Homo sapiens: one gene and its partners. The protein of the gene in region 1 interacts with the protein of each later gene in a biochemical or structural test. Each region holds a gene or a part of one and is shown on either strand. Other genes may lie near its edges. The genes, in order: FOXP3, NLK and KAT8.

Region 1 (5,180 bases):
GAGGCTTCAGCTTAAAGATGTAGGGGGAATCCTGCCACATGGCGAAGGATGCTTTGGGTAGAGGGAACACCACACGAGGCCTGGCCATGGGACAGAGCAGGCTGTTGGAGTTGGTGGGAGGGGCCCAGAGTGGCTGTGATGGGGGCTGGTGAGCAGGAGCTGGGAAAGGGGCTGTGTGTGCTGAGGGGGCATGTGTTCACATTGCCTCAGATCGAGACAGAGCTGGGCAAGAAGACCCTCAGCAACCTGGAGAAGATCCGGGAGGACTACCGAGCCCTCCGCCAGGAGAACGCTGGCCTCCTAGGCCGGGTCCGGGAGGCCTGAGGAGCCGCCGGCAGAGGTCTCTCCCCAGCCTCAGGCAGGGATTTGGGGTGCTGGAGGCAGTGGCCAAGCACATGCCCTAGCTACTTCCTCCGCTGTCCAGTTCCTCCTGCTGCGGCCTTGGACCCAGACCCCTGCCCACTGACCGCAACCCTTATATGGGGTGATAGTCCAGCATGTGGGGAGCTCGGCTGCAGTTTATTGGGGACGGTACTGTGGGTTGGGGGCCTTGGATCCCAAATAAATGAGTAGTTCCTCTGCAGTCTAAGCTGAGGCATGGATCAGGGCTCAGGGAATGGGAGTGAGGTGAGTGGCAGGGGAGACACGGGGTATTTTTGGCAAGGCAGTGTGTGTGGCTGTGTGTGTCTGCACGGGACTCAAGAGACCCACTGGGGGGCTGTGCGTGTGCATATGCGTGAGATACACAGGTGAATTCTAACAGGCCGTGTGTGTGAGCGAGCACGTGTTGGGACCTCAGATCCTGAGGGTACTGACGCTGCTTCTGTGTAGGCCTCTGGGCACACCCCTGTGTTGACAGTGCCCCTGTGGGCCCTGAGGCTGGCTGTGGGTGCGTGCCTTGGGGTGTGTGGGTTGTCAGGGCTGTGCTTGTGTGTGATTGTGTGATGATGCAGCTTTGAGGTTGTTTGAGTGTACTGAGGCAGGCTCTCTGTGTTTTGGGGTTTGTGTTGAGTGAGGGACAGGATTGTGACATTTTGTGTGTCTGTGTGACTTTTCCAGCCCTGAAGTAATCTGTGCGAGCAGCTGAGGCAGGCTCTGTGTGGCTGGTTGTGAAGGCTCTGTTTGGCTGCAGGGCTCGACTGGGGGGTGTGTCTGGGGCGGAGGTGGGGGCTGGGGCCAGGACCGGGGCCCCTCTGAGCAGCCTTGGGGCAAAGGATATGATGGGGGAGGGGGTGGCTGCCAGCGGGGGAACAGGGGCCCTGGCAGGCAAGACAGTGGAAACCTCACTTCTTGGTCCCTGTGGGCACATCCAGGGCCTATCATCCCTGCCCCCACCACCTCTGCCTCCCACCAGTTTGGCCCCTGTTCGTCCATCCTCCTTTCCTTGATCTTGAGGTCAGGGGCCAGGTGTAGGGTTGGAACACCTGCTGGGCCTCTGGCTCCGTTTCTTGCGGAACTCCAGCTCATCCACGGTCCACACAGCCCCCTTCTCGCTCTCCACCCGCACAAAGCACTTGTGCAGACTCAGGTTGTGGCGGATGGCGTTCTGTGGAAGGCCGGGGACAGGGAGCAGGTGGGCGTCAACCTCTGAGGCCAGCAGCCACCACCAACAACCCACATCCCGTTCCTCCCCAATGTGCCTATGAGCCCAGACCCAGGCCTGCCCACTTTGAGCTGCGATGGCACTTGAGGCCATCCCAGTCACCGCCACCTCAGAGGAGCTCACCTTCCAGGTGGCAGGATGGTTTCTGAAGAAGGCAAACATGCGTGTGAACCAGTGGTAGATCTCATTGAGTGTCCGCTGCTTCTCTGGAGCCTCCAGGATGGCCTGGAAGTTGGGGGGTGGGGTAAGGGGCACATTCCCCAAACTTGGGGTTTAGAGGGGCTATGACCTACCCCGAGCCATCTGACATGGGGGCGGAATTGTAGGGGCAGGTAATCAGGGACAGGACTAGATGTGGGGTGAAGCATGGGGTCAAAGATGGGGTTAGAAAAGGGGTGAAGTGTCGGGTTGGGCAGGGTTAGATGGGTGTGGGTATGGTTGTTCTGGGATTAGGTAAGGGATCAGGACTGAGGTTGGGAGTGGGGTCTTGTTCAGGGCTAGGGCTGAAGTGAGGTGAAAGGTCTGGGATGGAGTTGGAGTTGGGGTTCTCTGTGGAGGTGACATTTCAGGGTTGGGGAAGGTGAAGGGTCAGAAGTGGGGTCAAGGATTTGGAAGGGGTAAAGGGCCAGGCCAACTTAAGGGTCAGGGAAGGGGTGGGTTAAGAGTCAGGCTGGGGTGGACTCAGGTGGGGGGTCTAGGGGTGAGGGATGGGATGACTTGGCTTTAGGTCAGAAGCCAGAGATGGTTTGAATTATCGAGTATCTTACGTGTCAGGGACATGGTTAGGTGGTTAGGCTCAGGGCAAGGATGAGGTTAGTTGTGGGGTTCGGTGTGGAGTGAGGCTGAGGGTCAGGGAATTTGATCAGTTTGGATTCAGGAATGGGATTACAGAGTCAGCGATGATGATTGCAGTGAGGCTATCAGTCAGGATGGGGCTAGGTCAGGGTTTCAGTTCAGAGACAGTCGGGGAATATCTGGTATCATGTAGGGGTGAGGTTCAGGTTTGGGGTTAGGTGTGGCGCTAGGATGAAGGTTCTGAGAAGGCATTGGGGAGGCTGAGATGAAGGAGTTGGGATGGGGTGATGAAGTTAAGGATCAAATGGGTGTTACAAGGAAAGGTTGGGAATGGTGCCCAGTTGGGGGTGTATTGACATACTGGGGTACGTTGGGGCCAGGGAAGGAGATGGGGTTGGGTTGGCATAAAGGCTGGGGAAGGAGTTAGAGTAAGAGCTGGGGTACGTTTAGGGCAAGGTGCAGAGATGGGGTTAGCTTTAGGCTATTTTATGGGTCCAGGAGAGGGTTAGGTATGGGGCTGAGGTGGACATCTGGAAAGGGGTAGGTTTAGGGTCAGAATTTGGCATGCTCTGGCCTGGATGGTGGTTTAGGTTTGGATTTGCGGACAGGTTTGGGGTGAAGCCAGCATGAGGGGTCACATTTGAGGCACGGCTTGGGGATCCTTGGGGCTGGGGCTTGGGAATGGAGGAACCCACTCTGAGGGCACTCAGAGGGAGACAGGAGTTTGGGAGGCAGGTCCCCCACCCCATCTTTGTCTTCCTCCTCCTTGGGGCCGAGCTGCCCTGCTTACCCAGCGGATGAGCGTGGCGTAGGTGAAAGGGGGTCGCATGTTGTGGAACTTGAAGTAGTCCATGTTGTGGAGGAACTCTGTCAGAGGGTGGGGATGAATCAAGCCCCATGCAGGACCTCCTAGCTAGCTCCCTGTCCCCTCCCCCTACAAGGTGAGTCTACAGGCCTGAGATCTCACCGTCAACACCCGTGTCCACGGGCACAGGTACTGTTTGCTGAGCACCTGACATAAGTTGTATCATTTATTCTTTGCACCACTTCTGCCAAAATAGTTCTCCCCGAGGTTGAAAAGAAGCGGAGTAACTTGCACACCAAAGGATGCAAGAGGTTAAATGGCAGAGCCAGGATGACAGTCAAGGTCTCTGATCCCTGCTAAGCCCACAGGCCAGGCCTGGTGGAGAGCAGTGGATAGGTGAGCTCGGGCGAATCCACCCCGATTTTCCTTGGTCAGGGGAGGAAAGGAGGTGCTCCTGGAATTACTTAGCAGGGTCCCTCCCTTCTGATGGCCGAATATAGTAGCTGGAGTCCAGAGTGGGTGAGGCATGGCCCCAATCCCCAAGGGAGTCAGGGCTAGGGGCCCGACACTCGAGACCATATGGGGGGCTTTCAGGCCACGGACATCCCGAAAGGAAGCTTTTGTGAGCGGATGCATTTTCCCAAAGGCTGAGTGGCGGCAGCTGCAGTGGTGGTGGTGGTGGGAAGGGGCAGCATGGAGCTCCTTTGCACCCTCCACCCAGAGCCTGTCAGGATTAGGAGCTTGGGGGCACCGTGTAGTGCAAGGACCATTCTTACCTGGGAATGTGCTGTTTCCATGGCTACCCCACAGGTGCCTCCGGACAGCAAACAGGCTGTCAGGGGCCTCCCGGGGGCCAGACCAGGCTGGGACGACAGGGCCTTGGCTGCCAGCAGCTACGATGCAGCAGGAGCCCTTGTCGGATGATGCCTGGGTGAGGGGGAGAGGCTGGTGACCCAGAGGCTTAAACTTCCCACTTTTTACTTTCTATTTTATGTTTTTTATTTTTTTTGATACTGAGTCTTGCTCTGTCGCCCAGGCTGGAGTGCAGTGGTGCAATCTCGGCTCACTGCAACCCCCACCTCCCAGATTCAAGCAAGTCTTCTGCCTCAGCCTCCCGAGTAGCTGGGACTACAGGTGCCCGTCACTACGCCCAGCTAATTTTTGTATTTTTGGTAGAGATGGGGTTTCACCATGTTAGCCAGGCTGGTCTCGAACTCCTGACCTCATGTGATCCACCCGCTTCAGCCTCCCAAAGTGCTGGGATTACAGGCATGAGCCACTGCGCCTGGCTCCACTTTATTTTTAAATCAGTGTTTTTCAAAGCAAGGACGCCCTCTTCTAAATTCCAGTCTGAGGTGGAATCCCACAAAACAGCATGAGCCGTATTTATTAGAGCACAGGTGCGGATGTCGTATGTGGCCACTGATGCTGGGACCATGAACTGGGGTTGAATAGGGCTCTTTACCACCCAACTGTGACCTTGGGAAAGTCACCTAAACCCCCCTGGCCTCAATATTCCTCATCTGTACATTCGCATCATGAGAAATAAATTACCACCAGCAAAGCGCTCAGAAACAGTGCCTGGCCTCCAGGGCTGGCTTCATGGGCGTGTGACCTATGTGGTTATGTGGCACCCTGTGCTTTGTTTAATGCTCTGTGGTCGCCATCTTGAAATCTGAACAAGGGGCCCTGCAGGTTACATAGCTGGTCCTGCTGGCACACAGCCTGCATCTGGCAAGTCTGGCTATTTGCATTTGCTTTAACAACTCAGGATCACAGTGTTTGGGGATCTTAGAGTCAGAGGGTTTTTTTTTTTTTTTTTTCTTGAGACGGAGTCTTGATCTGTCGCCTAGGCTGGAGTGCAGTGGTATGATCTCAGCTCACTGCAAACTCCGCCTCCCAGGTTCAAGCAATTCTCTGCCTCAGCCTCCCAAGTAGTTGGGACTACAGACACCTGCCACCACGCCTGGCTAATTT
Region 2 (11,538 bases), on another chromosome or scaffold:
AATATTATAACATCTGAGAAATTAAGTAACATTAATTATTAAGTTTAATATTGAAAGTCTTAATAAAGAAAGGTGCTTTGTTGGTCGACATTATTTGTCCTCATAAATCTTCTGCAAAGAATCCCTATAACCAACTGTTGCACCTTTCAAAAATTTCAATTTTATTAAAATGTTTTAAACAGTGTTATAATTAATTAGCTTGTGTTTTTAAAAGAATGCCTGTCAATATTTACTTTGAACGCTGGCTATGGTATACACCCAGTTAACTTCAGGATAACCCCAATTACTGTAACCTGCAGAACCTGGGAAAATGAACACAGAGGAAGCCAATCAATTAAACATGGTTGAAGATGCTCACATAATTCTCTGAGGCAATTCAAACCCAAACCAAGCCCCTTCTTCTGCACAATAACCACATTACTTGCCAATTTTTATAGCTTCTGGATTACTTTTAATAAAGCTCAAATTTCCTCCGCATCTGTATTACTAAATTTCCAGCTCTATTGAAGTAAATATAGAAATCAAGTTTCCTATTTTAAAAAATTAGAAAAGAGAGGGAAGTGGAGAAGAAAGTGGGGAAAAACCCTCTGCACCAGGCTGCATGTTAATTTAGATGTGCAATGAGACAATCACCTGATAATTGTACCCTTTGGGTACTTTTGTACTGGTAAGATAATACAGTGAAATAAAGTCACCTGGCTTATTTCAATTAACTTACACAATTTGCAAATCTGCAACTCTCTGCCATGGTACATTAAGAAAATTAGCATGTAAGAAAAATCACCTGCTTATGTAAATTGACGGATCATTTTTATCCATGCAGACAGGAAGAAAAGCTGCAATCTGGGTCAAATGACTAATTTTATCTATTTGTTCAAATGTCTCTTTTCACCTTTTTTCTGTAGCTCAGAGCAAGAATTTTAGGTCAAAGAATGGATAAACAAAAAGTTTCTGTGTTGTCCATTCCCCTGTAAGAAGTCTGCTGCCTGACACTACTGAGCTCTATACTACTTAAATTGAAAACAAGACTGAGAACCTTATCCAGATAACAAAACCACAATACGGAGAGGATAAAAAGAGAAATCAATAGGAGATATCTGCTCTAACTGGGAAGGAAAGCAAACATGGCAACGATCAGGTACCAAATTTACCTTCTGCTACTTTAGGCAAACAAAGCTTCAGAAAAGAAAAGGAAAAATGCCTCCAAATAACTCAGGACAGACAGGACTTCTCTATAGAGATCATTATTCCAGTTTGTTCCATAAATATACCCACTCAAGTTCTTCTGAGTCTGACACAAGTCAGACAAATGCAGTATCTTGGTCATTAATGACTGCATTCCTGGCATTTACTGCTGGTATTCATCCCTCCCATTTAAAACTGACTCCATCTCCAGGTCCAGAAGTGGATCTGATTGCTCCAAAAGTAATCTTACCTTCATTGACAGTGACTGGTTCAGAAATGAGTATGTAATCCAACAAAAGCCAAAGAGAGGCCAGGTGCGGTGGCTCAGGCCTGTAATCCCAGCACTTTGGGAGGTCAAGGTGGGCAAACTGCTTGAGCCCAGGAGTTTGAGACTAGCCTGGGCAACAAAGTGAGACCCCATCTCCACAAAAAAATAAAAAAAATAGCCAGGTGTGGTGACAGAGCAAGACTGTCTCAAAAAAAAAAAAAAAAAAACACCAGAGATCAATATGCTGGTGCTGGTCAGTAGCCATGTGTGGCTACAGAACACTTAAAATGTGGTTAGACCAAACTGAGACATATTCTAAGCATGAAGATACATAGTGATTTTGCAGACTCAGTATGAAAAAAAAGTAATATAGATCATTAATAATTTTTATAGTGAATACATGTTGAAATGACAATATTTTGGATATAGAGTTAAAATACATTACTAAAATTAATGTCACCTGTTTCTTTTCAGTTTTTTACTGTGGCTACTAGAAAATTTAAGATTGCATACTTTCACTATGTATTTACTGGATAGCACTGCTGGTTTGCTGAGGGTGTCTGCAAAAATGCTCCCTTCCTCTTGGACAAGAGCTTTAGGAAGTCACTCTCCCTCTTTGGGCACTGTAAGCCCTAAACTACTACAGCCTGAAAGCTGTGTCAAAGCTCATTTTCTGGGAGGCCCACATGCAAACTAGTAACTCTCTTATCCAAATTCAGAATTTAAAAGAGACTCCTGGAAAGAAATTTGTTTTAAAGAAACTTGCAAATTAATGTAAGCACTGGCTCCCAAATCATCTTACCTGATTACTCACACACAAAAGATGACAAAATACTGAACATTAAATTTTATTTAAAAATTTAAAAATCACTCAAAATATTGTAAGAAAACTATTGTAAGACTTATAAGAAACTAAGCAAGTTTTTAAAGTCTAAAACACTAAAAAGGTAAATATTATCAGGAAAATAGTAGTATCAAATGGACATGTAGAAGAAATTGCTCATTTGCAAACAGGCCTGCTCTTCTCCACAGCTGAACTACATGTATAATCCTTACCAATAACTCAGTAATAGAAGAAAACAAGTCTCTTGATGAAAAAAAAATGAACATTTAAAATCTAATCCCAAATTAGAAAACTCTATAAAAGTCACCACTCTGGAACAGGGTGACATTTATCTCATTCCTCCTTTAAACAATTTTAGAAGCTATTCAACACTGTAGTCCTGAAGAGAGAAAGTTGTCTTGTGGTCACCAGCAAACTCCAACAAATATTAATATCATTTTATAATAGAATCTTAGGAAACACAGGATTTTATAAATGAGAAAACCAAGGCTCAGAAAGTTTAAATAACTTTACCAAGGTCACAGGGTTGTTGGCAGCAAGGCTAGGACCAGAACCTTGTCTCCTAACAAGTTTAGTTTAGTAATCTATTACCCCATTGTTTAAAAAAAAAAAAAAAGCCGGGCGCAGTGGCTCACAACTGTAATCCCAGCACTTTGGGAGGCCGAGGCAGGCCGATCACGAGGTCAAGAGATCGAGACCATCCTGGCCAACATGGTGAAACCCCGTCTCTACTAAAAATACAAAAATTAGGCGGGTGTGGTGCCACGTGCCTGTAATCCCAGCTACTCGGGAGGCTGAGGCAGGAGAATCCCTTGAACCTGGGAGGTGGAGGCTGCATGAGCCAAGATCATGCCACTGCACTCCAGCCTGGTGACAGCGGAAGACTCTGTCTCAAAAAAAAAAAAAAATCCTTCCCAAGGAAATGGCACCTTGAACATCAAGTTCTCTGGTTTATTAAACTAAAAACAAACAAACAAACAAACAAACAAACAAATGAGATTTGGAAGAATTGTATTAATAATTTTAAAAAATTGTAAAAAGTAATACTGAATACTTAAGACATTCTTTAGAATCAATCAAACACAATCACTCTCTCAAATGCCATCAATGATCTATTTACTATCAGGCTAAATACAATGGCCTTTTGGCCTTTTCTCCATCTTAATTTTCTGACTTTTTTTTTTTTTTTTTTGAGACAGGTTCTGACTCTGTCGCCCGGGCTGGAGTGCAGTGGTGTGATATCAGCTCACTGCAACCTCAGACTCCTGAGTAGCTGGGACTACAGGTGCGTGCCACCACACCAGGCTAATTTTTTTTTTCTGTACTTTTAGTGGAGATGAGATTTCACTATGTTGTCCAGGCTGGTCTCGAACTCTTGGGCTGAAGTGATATGCCCACCTCAGCTACCCAAAGTGCTGGGTTTACAGGTGTGAACCACCATGGCCGGCCTTCTTTGACTTTTTATCAGCACCAAAGATCACTCCCATTTTCCTAACAATCTTCTGCCATACTTAGATTGTCAATCATTGTGAACACATTTTCCTAACTGCCCTTTAGTTCTGCTTCCAGTAGCTTCTTCCACCTACAACTGAGAACATTCCCTAAGACTCAGACAGATCTCAGTTCTCTCTACTCTTCTATTTTACATATCCAAAAAAAAAAATTAAATCTGACGAAGTCTCTCTTACTTAAAAACTTTCAGTAGTTGCCATTCGCAGTTTTAACCTTTTCTCATCATTGCCCGCCTACGGAGCCTTTTTAGGCTATTTTCCTAATCATCCCCTCGTAAAATCTTAATACCACAGATATGCTATTTAACTGTTTATGTGCTATATGTCCACATATGCTTTATTAATAAAAAGCTGTTTTTAGTGCCTCAAGCATGACATTCCAACCTCTTCATGATTGAGCTCTAGCTTACACTTCCTACCACCCACTGCACTGCACATTCAGCATCTCCAGCCCTGTAGTCTCCTGCATATAGGCCCTTCCACCTAGACTGCCCTTCCCCATTGGTTGACTCTCATTCTTAAAACTCATTGAAGAATTACCTATTTTAGGAAGCATCCTGACCTTCCATAGAAATCCCTCCTCTACACGCCCTTAATGTCCAGGGACTATCTCTATTGCTGCATTTATGGCAATGAATTATAATAATCCATTTACAAATCTATTTCACCCAGTAGGTCATAATCACCTTTAATCCTTATCTCCAGCACAGTGCCTGGCAAATAGTAACATACAATAATTGAATATTGTAAGAACAAGTGAAAATAATATATATATTTTTTGAGACACAGTTTCACTCTTGTTGTCCAGGCTGGAGTGAAACGGCACGATCTTGGCTCACTGCAACCTCTGCCTCCTGCGTTCAAGTGATTATCCTGCCTCAGCCTCCCAAGTAGCTGGGATTATAGGCATGTGCCACCACACCTAGCTAATTTTGCATTTTTAGTAGAGACGGGATTTCACCATGTTGGTCAGGAGGGTCTTGAACTCCTGACCTCAGGTGAACCGCTCCTCGGCCTCCCAAAGTGCTGGGATTACAGGCGTGAGACACCATGCCTGGCCTGAAAATAATATATTCTTAAGTTTTTATTTAATGGTTTCAAATTTAGTTTCACCTCTCCACCAAGGCTGAGGACACCCTGAGAGTAGGCATGTTTCATTGTTCATATTGTTTACTTGACTGTCAACTCCTCCAAAGCAATATGGTGACTTAAACATCCCTATACCTCAGTACTAAGCACAATACAGACAACAGCAGCAGCAGCTTAATAGAGGTTCGCAAAATTATTTATAAGACTAAATATCCCCATTTGGTGCTTGCAAAAGTGCTGGTCCACAGCGAAGTGACAATAAAAATATATAGACTAGTGAGTTCCAAAGGTGTTAAAAACTTTCACTGCCTCATAGTAGATATGACTCAATTAGCCAAATTATTTCAAAACTGGGTTTAGGTAAAGAGCACCAATCATTATGAGTGGCAGACATCCCCATATATACTCCCTCTACTCACACCATTACAACTAAGAGTTAAAGTTCAATCTCAGTAGAGTTCACTTAGAAGTCATCTTTCCATAATGCCAGAGTACCAGTTTTTTCTGTTTCTGCACTAGGTACCTTACAACTACTGACTATGTCTATCATGACTTGTTATGTGCTCACTGACAGTGTTACAACTGTTGCCTCAGACACTCTGTTACTTCCAAGCAATATCAGGATCACACTGACAAGCTATTTTAGTTATTGTTGACCTGTATTAGATGGCCCAATCAACAAATAATTCACTGGAGTAGCACAGAGGCACAGGGACTCAGAATTAAAACCCAAAGAGACGCATAATTAAAGAGCTTCTAACAGCTTCTGTCCATTTATTGGTTGGATGACAAATGAAAAAGTTTCTTTGGCCTTGACAATCTCCATCAAAGAAACCAAATAAGCATGTTAAGGAAACATACAGTATATGAACAGTTAATTCTTGTATTGCTTGGACATCAATAAATCTAATAAAAACGACCAAGAATAGTCACTCAGTTTTACAATATAGAAGGCAGAGAAAACTCTGACACTCCAAGTTGTGAAGACAATGAAACATTCCAGTACTCCATTAGAGGACTTTTTGTATCTACAGCTGCCTGTGCTTTGAAGGTAAAAACCCAGAATTTAAATTCAAACATATTCAGTTAATGCACTTATGCATTTTACAAATTTTTGTTCTGGTATAGCATATGAAAGGGAGCTATATCTGCCCCCATTTCTCTTTTATGACACATGCCCAGTGGTACTGATGGCTAAAAAGATGGTATTTAATGTTGAGGGATATTGTTCTAACTTGCTTGAAAGGGCAATGTTTCTGAAATGCCTTAAAAAAAAAAACTGTCTTTTTTTCTAAATTAATATTGGACAGTATAACATGAAATTTCTCCCCAAGAATAAAACAAGTTTATTTTTTGTGCTGTGGTTTTTTGAACATAATTTGGATAATCTTTTCAGGAGTCTAAGTACAAAATGACTTGCAACGTTATAGGCTATGGAGTTTCAACCACCAAGAAGTGGGTGCAGAATCATCAGATTGTTACTTTTATTCTCTACTCTTTATCTACTTTATGATCATGAACCTGTAATTTCCAAAAGTAAGTTCGTTTGTAGTTAAAATTAACAATACAGATTTCCACATTTCTAGTTTCATACGGATGCTTTGTTATGTCTAGAAGAGCAACCGTTTCCTTTTTATGGTGCAGGCTCTGCTTCTTCAAAGCTCTTTTCACAAAGCAGAGCCCCCAAAGAATCCAGCTGTGGCTGTTAATCTCGGCTGATAGTGGAGAAACTTCTCAGTACTACAGATTCTCAACCTGTAAAACACAGTTAATAACAAAATACCCTTTAGTATACTACTCTTTCTGATGCAACTTACTCCAGGATTTTCCCCAAACATATCCCAAAAGCATTCTGCATTTTTCCAAATTAGTTTGTTATGTGGAGTAAGAGGACCAGACAAAACATAAGAAAAAAAGATGCCTCTCATGTTCACAAGATGAGCAAGCTAGACAATCTCTACCATGCACAAGGGCTTATACTGAGTAATTTTTTTGTTAAATCACTATATTTCTCCCACCTCACTGGGATCTTTAGCAATTCACACTTTTTCATCCAAACATAAGCAAAGTGAATCTCTACTTCGACAATAAGGATGTCTTTCATTTGTTACATTCTGAAAAGAAAAAATTAATTTCCCAGTATATAAATCCATAATACTTTCTAAAACAGTGCAGATGATCTGACTAAAACACCTACAAAGTCCATACAAATGTGTATTATTTTTATTTGTTTTTAATTAGTTGACAGGACAGCACAGAGTATTTTCCCCTTGGCTTTAAATTCAACCATTTTCAAATCTCCCTGACATACAGTACAACTGAGGGGACACGCTACGTTATTTAGAGTCATGCCTCCAAAAATAGTCTGCATGCTGATTTCACCTGATAAATCTGACAATCTATGAAGACACTTCCATGCACATTAACACAACAGCTTGATTTTTCTACCAACAATAACTACAATAAAAACAACTAACATTTATTGATGCTTACTGTGTGCTAGACAGTGTAATCATTGGTTTACAAGAATTACCTCACTTAATCTTCACATCAATCCTGAGATAAGTACTATTATTATCCCCATTTTATAGATGAGGAACAGAGAAGTCAAATAATTTATCGAGATCACAGAGCTAGTAACTATCACTACAGTTTTGAAAGACAGATAAAAGTAACCTGCTGAAGTTATTAGAATAATAAAATTCAAAGACCTCCAACATTACTTGGAGTACACAAAGGCAACAGAGCAAGTGAATCCCAGGATTTTTGATCTTTTAATTAATCAGGCAAGTCACAAACCAAAATGCTAATTTTATAAAAAAGTCTTTTCCCAGACTCACTTTTACCAAGGTGGCAATATGTGCCATTAATTCCATCTCTGATATGTTAAGTTGCCAATGTCAAAAACGGTCTAGGCACAGCGATCCTCAAACCACTCTCATGCGGTCAACTTCCTCCATCTCTCAAAATTATGAGCCCCTGAAACTCTTTGTCCCAAAGTTGTTACATCTTTAACCACAGCATTTTCCTCTGGCAAATGTGAACTGCAGACAAAAAGGTAGATTTATATTACTCACCAAATGACTGAAGTTACTATTTGTGGGTTGCTTTGTGTTTTGTTTTTGCATTATGAAAATGTCCATGTGGGTGTTTGGAGGCTGTAATGTCTCAAAAAGAAGGTCAAATTGTATATGATATCTTGATAACCCATAAACAACATTCTATCAGTGGCAACAAATGTTATCTCAGGTTATCCCACAATCACATTACCAGGTAAACTGGAACTCTTACTTTGAGATAAAATACAGCAGACAGTTGTTAATGAAACCTTAATTGAACTGTCACAGCACCATCCTTACCAGCAAGCTAATGAGTAATTCACTACTTTTACACAACTGTCCAATACTGATAAGTTATTCCACTAGTTAAATTCAACAGAAAGATAAATCAAGTCAGCTAGACTAAATTGTTCAGTGATAAATCTGGTAAAATGCTGCATCACTTCTACAAATATCTCTCCTTGTCTACATGGAGAAACAACAATCTCTCTCAAAATTGCATGCCACTTTTTTAGCCATCAGTTAGTACCCCTGGGTGTATGTCCCCAAGGAAATGTGGGCAAATACAGTTTCTTGTCATATGCTATTCCAGAAGAATACTTGCAAAGTGCATTAAATGAATATATGTTTGAATTAAGTGAATCTTATAATACCCCGGTAGTTAGTTACATGGCGGTTTCAATCAAAGGATGCATCACTGGGAGAACATTTTTATGTTCCATTATAATCATTTTAGAAAAAAGTTGTTTCCAATTCATAAGGTGCTTCCTAAATTAAAAAGATACATTCTGTTTCAGTTAAAAAGTAAAAAACCTCACTAATATCTTTACCTTGGGTTTCAGAATATTAGTGCAATTCCCGGTAGTTTGGTTTTCAAATCTCTAAACAGTCTTACTTAGGTCATACAACAGTTAAATTTCAAATATAATAAGGAATTCAGACAGCAAGTCATTGACATGTAAATATAAAAATAGAAAAGCATTTGCATACTAAAACATACACCTGGAACTCTTTCCTTTTTCATACCAAATTGTATTTCACCTGTAACAGCTGATGAAAACACTCAATGCAGTTAACTAGAAAAACTTGGTTAAAAAAACAAAGACCCGAATCACGTGATAACACAGGAGGACGGCCATCCACAAGCCAAGCAGAGGGGCCTCAAAAGAAACCAAACCTGTACCTTGATATTGGATTTCTAGCCTCCAGAACTGTGAGAAATAATTTTCTGTTGTTTAAGCCAAAACAAAGAAGGACCTGACTAGATCAATTAACCAAGCAGCAAAGATGCCAAAGCACTGTGCTAGGCGCTGAGGAGAAAAGGATTACTACAGTAGACAATCCTTACCCTCAAGGGGCTTACGAATGTAGTCAGTGACACAAGACAAACCTGAAGTAAGATGGTGCACAGAGGTGTACTTTAAGTACATGAGACAAACTCCATAGGTGGTAGAGCAGTCAATCAATTAAAAACCTCTAGAATGGCTTCAAACCAAATATATGTGGGCTTTCAGATATCAAAGATTCATAGTACCCACTAGCAGAACGTTTGCTGTGTGAGATGTTTCAGCACTCCAGTTCTTTATTGCCCCCTTCCTTAAAAAAATAAATAAATAAAATAAAAACTGCTACAAGTCACATCACTTTTTGATAGAAATGTAAGTGAAAAATGCCTTTTGAATATATTCAAGAATGCTGCAACCCATTTCCCTTTCAGTATCCCTAGTTTTTAGCATTGTATGTAAGGCACTAAAAAAGAAAGTAAGCATCCAGATCTAAGAAGATCCAAACAAGTGCTAAAAGTTATTAGTAAATCAATGACAAAATTTAAACCAAGGAACAACCGTTTTCCTGTCTGTTCCATCCCCCAACCAAAGCTTGGAAATCCTCAAGAGTTAGGCAAGGATAAGTTCACAGTTAAATCTCTGAGATAGTCTGTGGAAGGGAAGAGAGGAAGGCAGGAACAGGCAGGTCCCTGAGCAGAATGACCAAGGCACCATTACCAGCTATACTCTTTTCCACCTTGAATCCCACACACCTTGAAGAAAGGACCACGCTGCAGCAGAAACTTCCTTGGGGACTAGCTGAGAAAACACTGGACTCTACTAGTTTTTTTAAAAAATGGATGAGATCACTTAGCAGCCTAGATTATCAAATCTGAAATATAAATAAGATGGCCAGTTAAAATGCATAAACAATGCACCCATCAATTTTAGCCTCAAAAACAATGACGAAAGGAGATATTTACCGGGCTAGTTCCAAAGAGTTCATTTTCCTGTGGTAATGGGCGCTTTTCTCGGGAGTAACAATTTTTGAATGCACTGAAAATATCAATTCATCTATCCAAAGTGGAATCATTAGTCCTTGGGAGAAAACCCAGTTCATTCTAGTTTTGATAGGAACAAACATATTTTATTATAAACTACTAATCTTTCTAAGGTTAGACCAAATAGACCAAAATGTTATATTTAAGAAGCCCTTAGGCTTTTACAAATATCCTAGCACTAGCAAAGGTAGGGTCATTTGTTAAAAAAGTATTATTTCCTACTACAGCAACTGACCAACAGATAACAGCAACTTAAGAGGCACTAAATGACACTAAAACATTACACTGAATGTGGGCCACTGCATAGCTAGTCTACTAACCTCATTTGTGGTACTCATGTGTGATGCTATATTTAATGCATTCTTATCAAAAGGCTACAGCTACATACTTCTCAACTGTAGCTTTATGGTTTAAAATAAACCACTCAAGCAATGATCTTAACTGGTTCAACTATGAATCCTATCTTTCTTCTGGAGATCAAGATCACAAAATAAGTGAAAAGACAGAAAGGACAGGAAAGTAGTTATGCAAAGTATATCCTAATGACAAGAGTATTATAAAGGAATTCAGTCTGGATCAGGTGCTAACACTTAATGCCACAGGGCCACTGAATCAAACACACGAGATGACCAAGGTCTTCGTAGGAATTAGTATTGCATACATTCATCTACTGATCCTGTGTTCAGTGGCTTGCTTAGGTTCTAATAGAAAAGTTTGGTAGACAGCACACTTATGTGTGTTGCTCATGAGAAGGCGCTCCACCAAAACTTGCCATGAGCCTAGACAGCCAATGCATTAGGCCTCTTTACCACATAAGTGAGGGTGGCTTCCTACAGTTGGGTTGAGAAGCTTGCTGCACCTTGGTCAACATGGAGACAACCATTAGAGATGGACTCATCCAATGACAACCAACAGAAGAAACCATGAGAGGTTGTGTTTTTCTTTGGATACTCACCAGACAACACCAAAGGCTCCATATCCAATAGGTCTATCCGGCTCAATATCCAGCTGCTGCTGTGGATGATGCGAGTGCTGATGATGGTGCGCCTTAACTGTAGCAGCTGCGGCAGCCTGTACCTGAGCTGGGGCTGCTGCAGCTGGTCCAGGAGCCTGCCCCGGTGCCGGTGATGGGAAATATGGCTGTTGTTGCCCAGGGTTTAACATGGCTGCAGCTGCAGCCGCTGCTGCGGCTGCCGCAGCTGCCGAAGAGGTGTGCTGCTGTACAGGGTGTACAGCGGCAGCCGACCCCGGATGAA
Region 3 (11,538 bases), on another chromosome or scaffold:
GAGCTGGATGAAGCCCGGCCACCCCTTCTGAGTGCCAAATACGAGCTGGGTGCCTTCCATGCAGGATCTGCTTCAGTCTTCACAGACATTAACTCTGTTTCAGCTCGTGAAACTGAGGCTCCGAGGCAGGAATTTAGACCGTCCTGTTCATGGCTGTGTCCCCAGCGCCTAGCACGAGTCTAAGTATGAAGCTGGGTGCCTGGTAAACGTCTGCTGAATGGAGGAACCTCGAGCCCTGTCTGTCCACTTGGCTGCACTCCAGGAGGGGGACAATGGGACCGAGTTTGGCTTCACGGCACACACTAAGGGGCTCCCTGGTTTATGACACCACAGCCACTCTCTCATCCAACCCGGCAGCTGTGCGAGCCCAGCACTGCCAGGCCCATCTTACTCAGGAGGAAGCTGAAGCTCCCAGAGTGGAAGTGCTTGCCCAGAGCCTCAAAGCTGGCAGAGCGCAGTTGGAAAGCACCCCCACATCTCCAGCGGGGGCCCTTCTGCTATTCCACACAGCCATGCTCAGGAAGGCAGAGCAGGGGCAAGGGCTGGGCTCAGCCTGCGTATTCTCCGAGTCCAAGGCTAATCAAGCCCCAAGAGGTCACCGATAATAACAAGGCCCGTGTTTATTAAGCACATACTAGTGCTAAGCACTGCACTAAACACTTGACATTTGCTGTCTCATTTATTCCACTAACAACACAACTAGGTAAATATTAAATATTATGACTCCCGTCTTATGGACAAGGAAACAGGAACAAACCATGTTAAGTAACTTGTCTGTGGTCAGTGAGGAAGTGACAAGGCAACATGAGCCACCCTGAAGCCTGCCCTCTCTGTCCTGTGCTGTATGGCCCATCTGCGGGAAACCAGTACACTTGGCCAGACCCTCCCAGACTGATAAGGCAAAGGCCAAGTTCTCTACAACAGCTAGGCAGGTCCCAAAGGCCCCAACCTGCCCTGCTGAAGTCATTCGGGGCCAGGAACAAGGAACTCAAACCTTGAAAGCCACAGAGCTCTCTCAGGAGGAAATTTCACACAAAGCAGTCCCCTCCCAGGCAAAAACAAACACCTTTCTTTCCAACGGAAGGAGAGAGCACTTCTAAAAGCAGCCTCAGGCAAGAAAATCTCCTCTGGGTTCCAGAACAACCCAAGTTTGAACCTAACCCCACCAGCAGAAGAGTCTTGGGGCCACCACAAGGCCCTGTGTTTCCTATGCACCAACTACAGGCCTAGTGCCAGGCTAGGAGGCCCTCAGAGGCCTTCTTTTTTTTTTTTGAGACAGATTCTCAATCTGACGACCAGGCTGGAGTACAGTGGCACAATCTCAGCTCACTGCAACCTCTGCCTCCCAGGTTCAAGCAATTCTTGTGCCTCAGCCTCCCGAGTAGCTGGGATTACAGGTGCGCACCACCACGCCAGCTAATTTTTTGTATTTTTAGTCGAGGAGTTTCGTCATGTTACCCAGGCTGCTCTCAAACTCCTGAGCTCAGGCAATCTGCCCACCTCAGCCTCCAAAAGTGCTAGGATTACAGGTGTGAGCTGCAGTGCCCGGCCCCTCAGAGGCATTCTGCCCATAGAGGCTCAGCTAAGGCTGCCCCCTCCCCTTTGGTGGTGATGAGGATCATCTGGGAGGTGCCCAGGGCCTCCCCGGCCTCTCCCAACCCCTGGCCACCCACTCACCTTATGGTCTTTGCCATCAACTTCGTACACGGAGATGTTGCTCTTGCGGTAGATCTCTTTCCCGGGGGGCTGCCGCCACTGGCACTGACCCTGGTCGGGGACAAGAGAACAGGTTCGCTGCCCATATGTTCTCTGCTAGGAGGCACCCAACCCACCACTGCATGCTTTGGAGCAAGTCTCTGCCTCTCTGTTTCCCCCCTCAACACTTCACCTACATCGAGTAATCCTCCCAGCAGCCTTAGGAAAGTGATCCTGCTTTTACAGACCAAGGCCCAGGCACAGAGATCCAAACATCACACAGCACGGTGGGGTTTTGAGTCTCTGTGGGCCTGGCTCTGGAGGGACCCGTCCATGACAATGGCTTCCCTAAACCACACCTATTCGCTTCAGATTCCACACTTCGGGAAGCAGCCCACTGTGTCAGTGATGAGAGCGCCCCTTCCTGACAGCCCCCAATTTCATCCACACTTAAGGTCCCACTGCCAGGGGCTATGTGTGCTTCCTGGGATGGAGCTGGCCTTGGCAAAAGACCTGAAGGGGGTGAGTTACTGTCCCCATTCCAGAGAAGAGGAGCTGAGGTCTGAAGTTGGCAAGGTCACCCTGCCAGCAACAGCAAAGCCAGGCCTGGAATCCAGGCCTCCTGACCCCCAGCAGCTCTTCCCTGTACTCGCTCCTTTGGGCCTGTCTCCTCCCTGGAGCTGCCGGCGCAGCCGCCCTCAGTCTCCATGCCTGCCTCTGCCTCTCACCGGGCCCCTGCCCAGCTCGGCCCGGCCGGCCCAGCCTCACCAAGTGGAAGCGGTAGCTCTTCTCATATTTCATGTACTTGAGGCAGTACTCGCAGAGCCAGAGCTTGGGCTGTTTCCCATAGTCTTCGGGGAATGGTGAGAAATACCAGGCATCAATTTCGTAGTTCCCGATGTGGATCTTGTCCACATACTTCACCTTGGTGATCTGCAGGCAGGGTGGGAGTGAGGCACAGTGCACGGCTCAGCAGGGGCTCCTCGGCAAGGGGAGACGGGGGACCTGCAGGCAGCTTCCCAGCCCCACTTACCGCCTCATGCTCCTTCTCCAAGGCTGCTGTGGTGGGGTCCATCTCTGCATAAGTCTGGGCCAGGAAAGAAAAGTGGGCAGAGGTGAACAGAAGTGGTGACCAGGCTGTCCCTCCCGTCAGGACCCACAAGGCTTCCCTGCCGTCTACCAGACCTCATTCCTGGATGGCAATAATAACCACACCAATAGCTAACCTATCTGACTTGGTTCTGAAGCTGGCTGGTCCAGACTCCTCTCACACCCACCCGCCCCACCCCCGATATCCCAGACATCCCTGATGTCCAAGTTTGGACCTTTTGCCAGATGAACAGGGTTAGGATCAGGATGGGGCTTCAGCTGCACGATGGGGGGCAATCCAGCTCTGCCAAAGTTGTGAGACTCAAATGAAATAACAGATTTGCCTTCCAGGCCCAGCGTAAGAACTGTTACTACCTCCCCGATGTTCCTGGACCCCTTTCCTGAGGACCAGACCCTGCCTGCCCATGCGACTGCCCCAGAGGTCCCTCCCACAGGGACAGCGGACTCAAGATGTGCAGAAAGGACCTCATCACTCCTCCCTGCAAACCTGCGCCTCCTCCTGGGTTGCTCATTTTACTGGGAACATCACCCTTGGTCCCAGTGTCCAAGACCCATAACTAGGCTTGCCTCAGACTACTCTCTCTCCCTCGGCCTGGCCAAGTCCTAATACAGTGGATGTCGAGTCTACTTCTGACATCTCTGGAATTGGGCCCTCTCTGGAATTCTCCTCTCTGTCCTGCTCCAGGTAGTCATGGCCCCATCTCAGGTCTGGACAATTTACTAGGCCGCCTCAGACTCCCTGCCTCCAGCCCCAGCCTCCTCATTGCTATCAGCAGCCCCCTTTTAGCGGCCTTCATGCTTCTGCACAAACAGCTCCTTCTACCTGGAGAATGCCCTTCCTTCTCTCACTGCCAGCAGAAAACACTTCCTCAGCCTGGCACGGAGCATGAGTCAGGTGAGTCCATGATGCTTTGTGATCTATCCTTTGTCACTGTTGTTATTGTGCTCTTTCCCATCCTTCAAGGCTTGAGATTCTTACCACCCCCTCCAGGAGGCCTGACTGGATTCTTCCCATCCAGAAAACATTCCCTCCTTCCCAAGTTCAGCGAGAAGTGGTCAACAGGGCAACACTGTCCAAGTATGCCCACCTGGGTTCCTCTATTTTTCAAGTCCTTAGAAAGCAGAGACTAAGAGTCACACCACACTCACAACACATCCTGCTCCTAGGCCAGACCCTGTGGGAGGAACCCAGTACAGCCTGACAATGGAAGGGGGACCCAAGACGGTCCATGACCTACACCAGGGCAGACAAGGCCCTGCCCTGTAGCTGAGAAGGGAGGAAGGAGCCAGTGCTTTACCCAGAACCCCCTCCACAAAGCACTGTGCCTATATGTTTATATGGCCTCATTTAATCCTTTCAGTAACCCTTACATAGAGTGTTATTTCTTTTTTTTTTTTTTTTTTTTTTGAGACGGAGTCTCACTCTGTTGCTCAGGCTGGAGTACAGTGGCACCATCTCGGCTCACTGCAACCTCCGCCTCCCAGGTTCAAGCAATTCTCCTGCCTCAGCCTCCCAAGTAGCTGGGACTACAGGCACATGCCGCCACATCCAGGTAATTTTTGTATGTTTAGTAGCAATGGAGTTTCGCCATGTTGGCCAGGCTGTTCTCAAACTCCTGACCTCAGGTGATCAACCAGCCTCGCACTCCCAAAGTGCTGAGATTACAGGCGTGAGCCACTGCACCCAGCTGCGTTATTTCAATTTTACAGAGTAGTAAACAGGCAGGGCAAGGTGAGGTCCCTTACCCTCGGGGACTAGTGAGCTGCCATTTATTCCAAGTGGCAAGCACGGCACAGACATGTTTTTTTTTTTTTCTTCTGAGATAGACTCTCACTCTGTCGCCCAGGCTGGAGTGCAGTGGGGAGATCTCAGCTCACCACAACCTCTGCCTTCTGGGCTTAAGTGATTCTCCTACGTCAGCCTCCCAAGTGGCTGAGACTACATGTGCCTGCTACCATTCCCAGCTAATTTATTTTGTTTTTTGAGATGAAATTTTGCTCTTGTTGCCCAGGCTGGAGCAATGGTGCAATCTTGGCTCACTACAACCTCCACCTCCTGAGTTCAAGCGATCTTCCCACCTCAGTGTCCCAAGCAGCTGGGATTACAGGCGCCCACCAGCAAGCCCGGCTAATTTTTTGTATTTTTGGTAGAGATGGGGTTTCACCATGTTGGCCAGGCTGGTCTTGAACTTCTGACCTTCAGATGATCCACCCACCTTGGCCTCTCAAAGTGCTGGGATTACAGGCATGAGCCATAGCCTTTTTTTTTTTTTTTTTTTTGAAATGGAGCCTCGCCCTGTCGCCCAGGCTGGAGTGCAATGGCAAAATCTCACGTCACTGCAACCTCGCCTCCTGGGTTCAAGCGATTCTCCTGCCCCAGCCTCCCAAGTAGCTGGGATTACAGGTGTGCACCATCACACCCAGCTAATTTTTTGTATCTTTAGTAAAGACAGGGTTTCACCATGTTGGCCATGCTGGCCTCCAACTCCTGACCTCGTGGTCTGCCTGCGCCTGGCCTCTTTTTGTATTTTTAGTAGAGACGGGCTTTCACCATATTGGCCAGGCTGATCTCGAACTCCTGACCTCAAATGATCCAATCATCTCAGCTTCCCAGAGTGCTGGGATTACAGGCATGAGCCACTGCACCCAGCCGACATTATTTCATTTTGTTCCTCACAATGAGCCTTTGAAATAAGAGTGCTCATTGTCCCTGTTGTATGAGAGAAAACTGAGGCACAAAGAGGTGAGGTCACTTGCCCAAGGTCACAGAACTGGTACTCAGCAGAGTTGGGCATGGGCCCCTGGTCTGTCCAATTCTGAACCTAACCACTGTAAAGATGAGGAAGAAAGATTTTCCTCCTCACACATCTCTTTAAAACACATTTCCCAATTCTCACAAAATACAGTACTCTTCTGCAAATGCAATAAAGAACTACAAAAACACTACTTTTCTTAATTGTTGCAATTTATTTAGAATTAAACATTAATTAGGCTCTGAAGAACCTTGCTGATTGTTAACTGGATGATTGTTTCATTACCTATTCTTTGATTTTATCACCACTGGCCCGTTATCCACCCTGCTGGTTGCCAACTCAGAGGTATGTCTTTGTTGAGTGCAAAACAGTTGAGGAATTAATCTTAGATCTACACTGTCCAATAAAGTAGCCACTTGTCACATAGGGCTATTTAAAATTATACTCAGCTAAACGTGGTGGCTCACGCCTGTAATCCCAGCACTTTGAGAGGCCGAGGTGGGAGGACCACTTGAGGCCAGGAGTTCCAGACCAGTCTGGCCAACATGGCGAAACCCCATCTCTACTAAAAATAAAAAATAAAAAATAGCTGGGTGTGGTGGCACACGCCTGTAATCTCAGATACTTGGGAGGCTGAGGCACAAAAATTGCTTAAGCCAGGAAGGCGGAGGTTGCAGTAACCCAAGAGCTCGCCACTGTACTCCCGCCTAGGTGACAGAGTGAGACTCTGTCTCAAAAAATGAAAATTTTGGCTGGGCACGGTGGCTCACACCTGTAATCCCAGCACTTTGGGAGGCCGAGGCAGGCGGATCAGTTGAGGTCAGGAGTTTGAGGCCAAACATAGTGAAACCCTATCTCTACTAAAAATACAAAAATTAGCCAGGCATGATGGTGCGTGCCTGTAGTCCCAGCTACTTGGGAGGCTGCGGCAGGAAACTCACTTGAATCTGGGAGGCGGAGGTTGCAGTGAGCTGAGATCGCACCACTGCACTCCAGCCTGGTTAACAGAGTGAGACTCTGTCTCGAAAAAATAAAAATAAAATTTTTTTAAAAAATGATAATTAATTTTTTTTTGAGACAGTCTTGATCGGACACCCAGGCTGGATGGAGTGCAGTGGCATGATCTTGGCTGACTGCAACCTCCATCTCCTGGGCTCAAGCGATTCTCCTGCCTCAGCCTCCTAAGTAGCCGGGATTACAGGTGTGCACCACCACGCCCGGCTAATTTTTGTATTTTTAGTAGAGATGGGGTTTTGGCCATGTTGGCCAGGCTGGTCTCAATCCCCTGACCTTAAGTGATCCACCCACCTCCGCCTCCCAAAGTGTTGGGATTACAGGCGTGAGCCACTGCACCCATAATTTAAAAATTTTTTTTTTTTTGAGACGGAGTCTCACTCTGTCACCCAGGCTGGAGTGAGCCCAGGATCTCGGCTCACTACAAGCTCCACCTCCCGGGTTCACGCCATTCTCCTACCTCAGCCTCCCGAGTAGCTGGGACTACAGGTGCACGCCACCACGCCCGGCTAATTATTTTGTATTTTTCAGTAGAGATGGGGTTTCACCATGTTAGCCGGGATGGTCTCGATCTTCTGACCTGGTGATCCACCCACCTTGGCCTCCCAAAGTGCTGGGATTACAGGCGTAAGCCACCGCGCCCAGCTAAAATTCTTAATTCTTCGTCACACTAGACACATTTCAAGTGCTCAACAGCTACATGTGGCTAGTGGCTACGGTACTAGATAGTACAGCTATAGAACATTTCCATTACAATAGGAAGTTCGATTCGGCAGTTTAGACCTTGAGGAGTTCTTCCAGTTTAGGGTATTTCAATTTTTTAAATCACACCACAGTAGGAAGTACACTTGGCACTGTAACATGTCTGTATATACACACAAGTATGTGCTAGGATCATCGGGAAGGTAAGGCTGGAACAAGAGGAATCCTGCACACTTTTATTGGGTGTGAAATAAAAGCTTCTCAAAACAATACCTACACTTAATAAAGTGCAACACCCTGATTTTTCTATCTTATCCACTTTCTTTCTTCCATTTAAAGAAATTTAAATGTTGGGCTTGCCCACTAACTCATGTACTCAGAAGGATGAAGCTGCAATAGCTGAAAGTAACAAATGTCTGGGTGTCTGGAGACTTTGACAAATCTTGCTCTGGTGTGCACTCCTGATTTTTATAAATTTAGAAACTGAGACTTGGTCGGGCGCAGTGGCTCACACCTGTAATCCCAGCACTTTGGGAGGCTAAGGCAGGAGGATCGCTTGAGACCAGGAGTTTGAGACTAGTGTGGGCAACATAGCAGATCCCGTCTCTACAAAAAAATAAAAAATTAGCTGGGCATGGTGGCACGTGCCTATGGTCCCAGCTACTCAGGAGGCTGAGGCAGGAGGATTGCTTGAGCCCAGGAGGTTGAGGCTGAAGTGAGCCATGATTGTGCCACTGCACTCAGCCTAGACGATAGAGTAAGACGCTGTCTCAAAAAAAAAAAATAACAATAATATGTACAATTATTAAGTATCAATACAAGAAAAAACCAAGGCAGGTACAGGGATGCACTCCTGTAGTCCCAGCTACTTAGAAGGCTAAGGCAGGAAGAACATTTGAGCCCAGGAGTTCAAGTCCAGCCTGAGCAACACACCAAGACTCCCGTCTCTTAAGAAAAAAACCAAAATCATTGCTAAGGCCTCTGGCTCTGAGGTAGCACAATTTAGCTGGTTGATCAAATTCCTGTCTGGGTCCCTAAACTTATCTGTAGCTCTTCTGCATGCTTACTTCACAGGCCTACTGTGAAATGTCAGTGAGGTCATGTATTAAAACACTTAGCTTAGGCCGGGCGCAGTAGCTCACGCCTGTAATCCCAGCACTTTGGGAGGCCGAGGTGGGCAGATCACCTGAGGTCAGGAGTTCGAGACCAGCCTGACCAATATGGCGAAACCTCGTCTCTACTAAAAATACAAAAATTATCCGGGCGTGGTGGCAGGTACCTGTAGTCCTAGCTACTTGGGAGGCTGAGACAGGAAAATTGCTTGAACCCAGGTGGCGGAGTTTACAGTGAGCCGAGATCATTCCACTGTACTCCAACCTGGGCGACAGAGCAAGACTCCGTCTCAAAAAAAAAAACAAAAAACAAAACACACACACACACACACACACACACACACAAAAACCATTTAGCTGAATACTTCTGCTCACCGGCTAACAAGTGTTTGGCATTATTATTCTAATTCCAGCCCACCGTTTTACTGGCTGTGTGACCTTGGGCATGTTACTTAATCTCTCTCAGCCTGCTTCCTCACCTACCAAAAAAGTAACTATTCCTGTGTGTTGAATTGTTGGGAAGGATTTGAGGAGCTTATACATATACAGCACTTGGCAGGGTGCTTGGCTATAGCAACTGCCGAATAACATTCTCGTCTTTCCCACTGAACTTCAAGTCATTTTTTCTACTAAGACACAGCTACTAGGAGACAAAAGAGGCTACCAGTGCCGGAGGCCTGAGTTCTAGTCCCAGCTGTGCCATTTCCTTGCTGTGAGACTGCAGCGAAGCCCTTACCCTCTGTCTGTTTTCTTACCTATGAAAAGTAAGTAAGAGGAAGTAGGTAAAGTCCCTGACACACTACAGGAGCTTAAGAAATGGGATTTGCTATGGTTTTGGCACTGGGGCCCGAGAGACCCAAGGGAACTGGCAGAGAAGCTGGGCCTCCTGGGCCCGTGGATGGGAAGGGATCCGGACCTTCTGCACATGGTTGATCTCATCATGCTTGCGCTTTTGGTTGCGAGTGATCTTGCGCTCAGGCTGCTCTGCGAGCTCGCTCAGGTACTTCTCTGAGTTCTTCTGTACAGCATCCTTCACTGTCTTGGTCAGCGCCAGCCGGTTCTTGTCTACCCACTCGTCCAGCCGCCGGTTAACTGTAAGTATGGGCCATAAGAGTGCTGCCAGGGCAGCCAACTCCCTGCACCCACGCCCAGATGTGCCAAGCCACTCACAGCCCACGTAGTGTACATAGAATTCCTCTCGGCCCTCCTGGTCGTTCACTCGAGACTGGATCACTTCAGCAGAATCTGTGATGGAAAAAGGCTAGGGTCATCAGGAAGGTAAGGCTGGAACAAAAGGAATCCTGCACACTGAGAAGCAGTTTCCAGAGTTCAGGGCCACACATCAGCTAACCTCACTGGTCCACCTCTGCCATTCTACTCAATCACTGCCACAACTGTGAGGTGGATCAGGTTGAGGCTGTTATTCTCATTTTACGAATGAGAAAATAACTGGCTGGGTGTGTGGCTCACACCTGTAATCCCAGTACTTCTGGAGGCCGAGATGGGCAGATCACTTGAGGCCAGGAGTTTGAGACCAGCCTGGTCAACATGGCAAAACCCCATCTGTACCAAAAAGACGAAAAAAAAAAAAGCCAGGCATGGTGGCACACACCTGTAATCCCAACTACTCGGGAGGCTGAGGCAGGAAAATTGCTTGAACCTGGGAGGCAAGGCTGAGGCAGGAGAATTGCTTGAACCCGGGAGGCAGAGGTTGCAGTGAGCCGAGATTGTACCACTGCACTGTGGCCTGGGTGACAAGAGCAAGACTCTGTCTCAAAAAAAAGAACCCCAAAAAACAGAACAAAACTGAGGCTTACCTAGGGTCACAGATTTGAAAAGTGGTAAGAGCTAATACTTAACTGAATTTAAGTCTGACTCTAAATTCAATGCTCATTTTACCACATACCCGCAGTTGTTCATTTGTTCAGGGATCATGAGTGCTGGCTCTGGATTAAGATAACCTACATTAATGTATAATTCCAGGGCTGGGCATCGTGGCTCACGCCTGTAATCCCAGCACTTTGGGAGGCCGAGGTGGGTGAATCACGAGGTTAAGAGGTCAAAACCATCCTGGCCAACATGGTGAAACTTCGTCTCTACTAAAAATACAAAAATTAGCTGGGTGTGGTGGCGCACAACTGTAGTCCCAGCTACTCAGGAGGTTGAGGCAGGAGAATCGCTTGAATCCGGGAGGCAGAGATCGCAGTGAGCCAAGATGGCGCCACTGCACTCCAGCCTGGCAACAGAGAGCGATTCCATCTCAAACAAACAAACAAAAAAAAATACACAAAATTCCAGCTCCCTACTTCCTAGCTATGTGTAACTGAGCAAGTTATTCCATCTTTCTGAGCCTCAGTCTCTTCATCTGTGAAAAGGGATAACAGCTGGGCACAGTGGCTCATGCCAGTAATCCCAACACTCTGAGAGGGTGAGGTGGGAGGATCACTTGAGCCTAGAAGGTCTAGGCTTCAGTGAGCTGTCATCGTGCCACGGCAATCCCACCTGGGTGACAGAGCGAGATCCTGTCTCAAAAAAAAAAAAAAAAAAAAAGACAAAAGGGATAATAGTACCAACCTTAGAAGGTGAATTAATGCCTCCAAAATTTTTAGCAGCGCACCTGACAATTAGCAGAGCATTCAATAAATGAGTAAGGCAACCACTACGTGTCTGGCCCTATGCTGTGTTGTTGCCGGGTACAGAGGACACAGTGATGAATCACAAGAAGTGCTGCCCTCCAGAAGTTCCCAGTATGATGGAGGAAGACAGAGAGAGAAAATTACAACATAATGTTACAAAAACTATGACTGAGGTAGGAAAAAAATGTTGCAGGAACATAGAGAAGGGAACCACTCACTTTGCCTGAAGGGGAATCAAGGATGACATCACAAAGGATATGAAGCTAAGAGGATGAGTAGGAGCTAGGCAGGCAAACAAGGAGAAAGGGAAGAAAAAGCATTCCAAGCAAAGGGCACAGGTGGTAAAGGGCGTGTGGTCTTCAGAGGGCACAGTGTGTTCTGGCCTGGCAATGCCCTTTCCTAGTGTTGGCTAGAAACTGGAGAGGTCACAAAAATGAATGCCACCCTAAGGAGTTTGGGGTTAATTTTGAAAATGAGAGAAGGCAGCAGAACTTTAGGAAAGGGAAGCCTGTTGTT

Evidence for each region.
Region 2: of the proteins of FOXP3 (region 1) and NLK, one has a biochemical effect on the other in vitro, tested with the Homo sapiens proteins (one study listed by BioGRID).
Region 3: the proteins of FOXP3 (region 1) and KAT8 form a complex in vitro, tested with the Homo sapiens proteins (one study listed by BioGRID).

What each region holds. Positions count from the first base shown.
Region 1 is NC_000023.11:49,249,938-49,255,117, forward strand, and holds the end of FOXP3 (forkhead box protein P3), read right to left. Parts: intron 4,131-5,180; coding exon 3,980-4,130; intron 3,266-3,979; coding exon 3,189-3,265; intron 1,829-3,188; coding exon 1,727-1,828; intron 1,547-1,726; coding exon 1,397-1,546; 3' UTR 501-1,396; downstream 1-500. Other genes in the region: CCDC22 (coiled-coil domain-containing protein 22), read left to right, coding at 211-324. UniProt on the Homo sapiens protein: Transcriptional regulator which is crucial for the development and inhibitory function of regulatory T-cells (Treg).
Region 2 is NC_000017.11:28,043,031-28,054,568, reverse strand, and holds part of NLK (serine/threonine-protein kinase NLK), read right to left. Parts: coding exon 11,238-11,538; intron 11,232-11,237; exon of another isoform or gene 7,738-11,231; intron 6,653-7,737; exon of another isoform or gene 5,643-6,652; intron 1-5,642. UniProt on the Homo sapiens protein: Serine/threonine-protein kinase that regulates a number of transcription factors with key roles in cell fate determination. Positive effector of the non-canonical Wnt signaling pathway, acting downstream of WNT5A, MAP3K7/TAK1 and HIPK2.
Region 3 is NC_000016.10:31,118,279-31,129,816, reverse strand, and holds part of KAT8 (histone acetyltransferase KAT8), read right to left. Parts: exon of another isoform or gene 10,961-11,538; intron 9,632-10,960; coding exon 9,557-9,631; intron 9,479-9,556; coding exon 9,303-9,478; intron 2,783-9,302; coding exon 2,729-2,782; intron 2,629-2,728; coding exon 2,464-2,628; intron 1,768-2,463; coding exon 1,678-1,767; intron 1-1,677.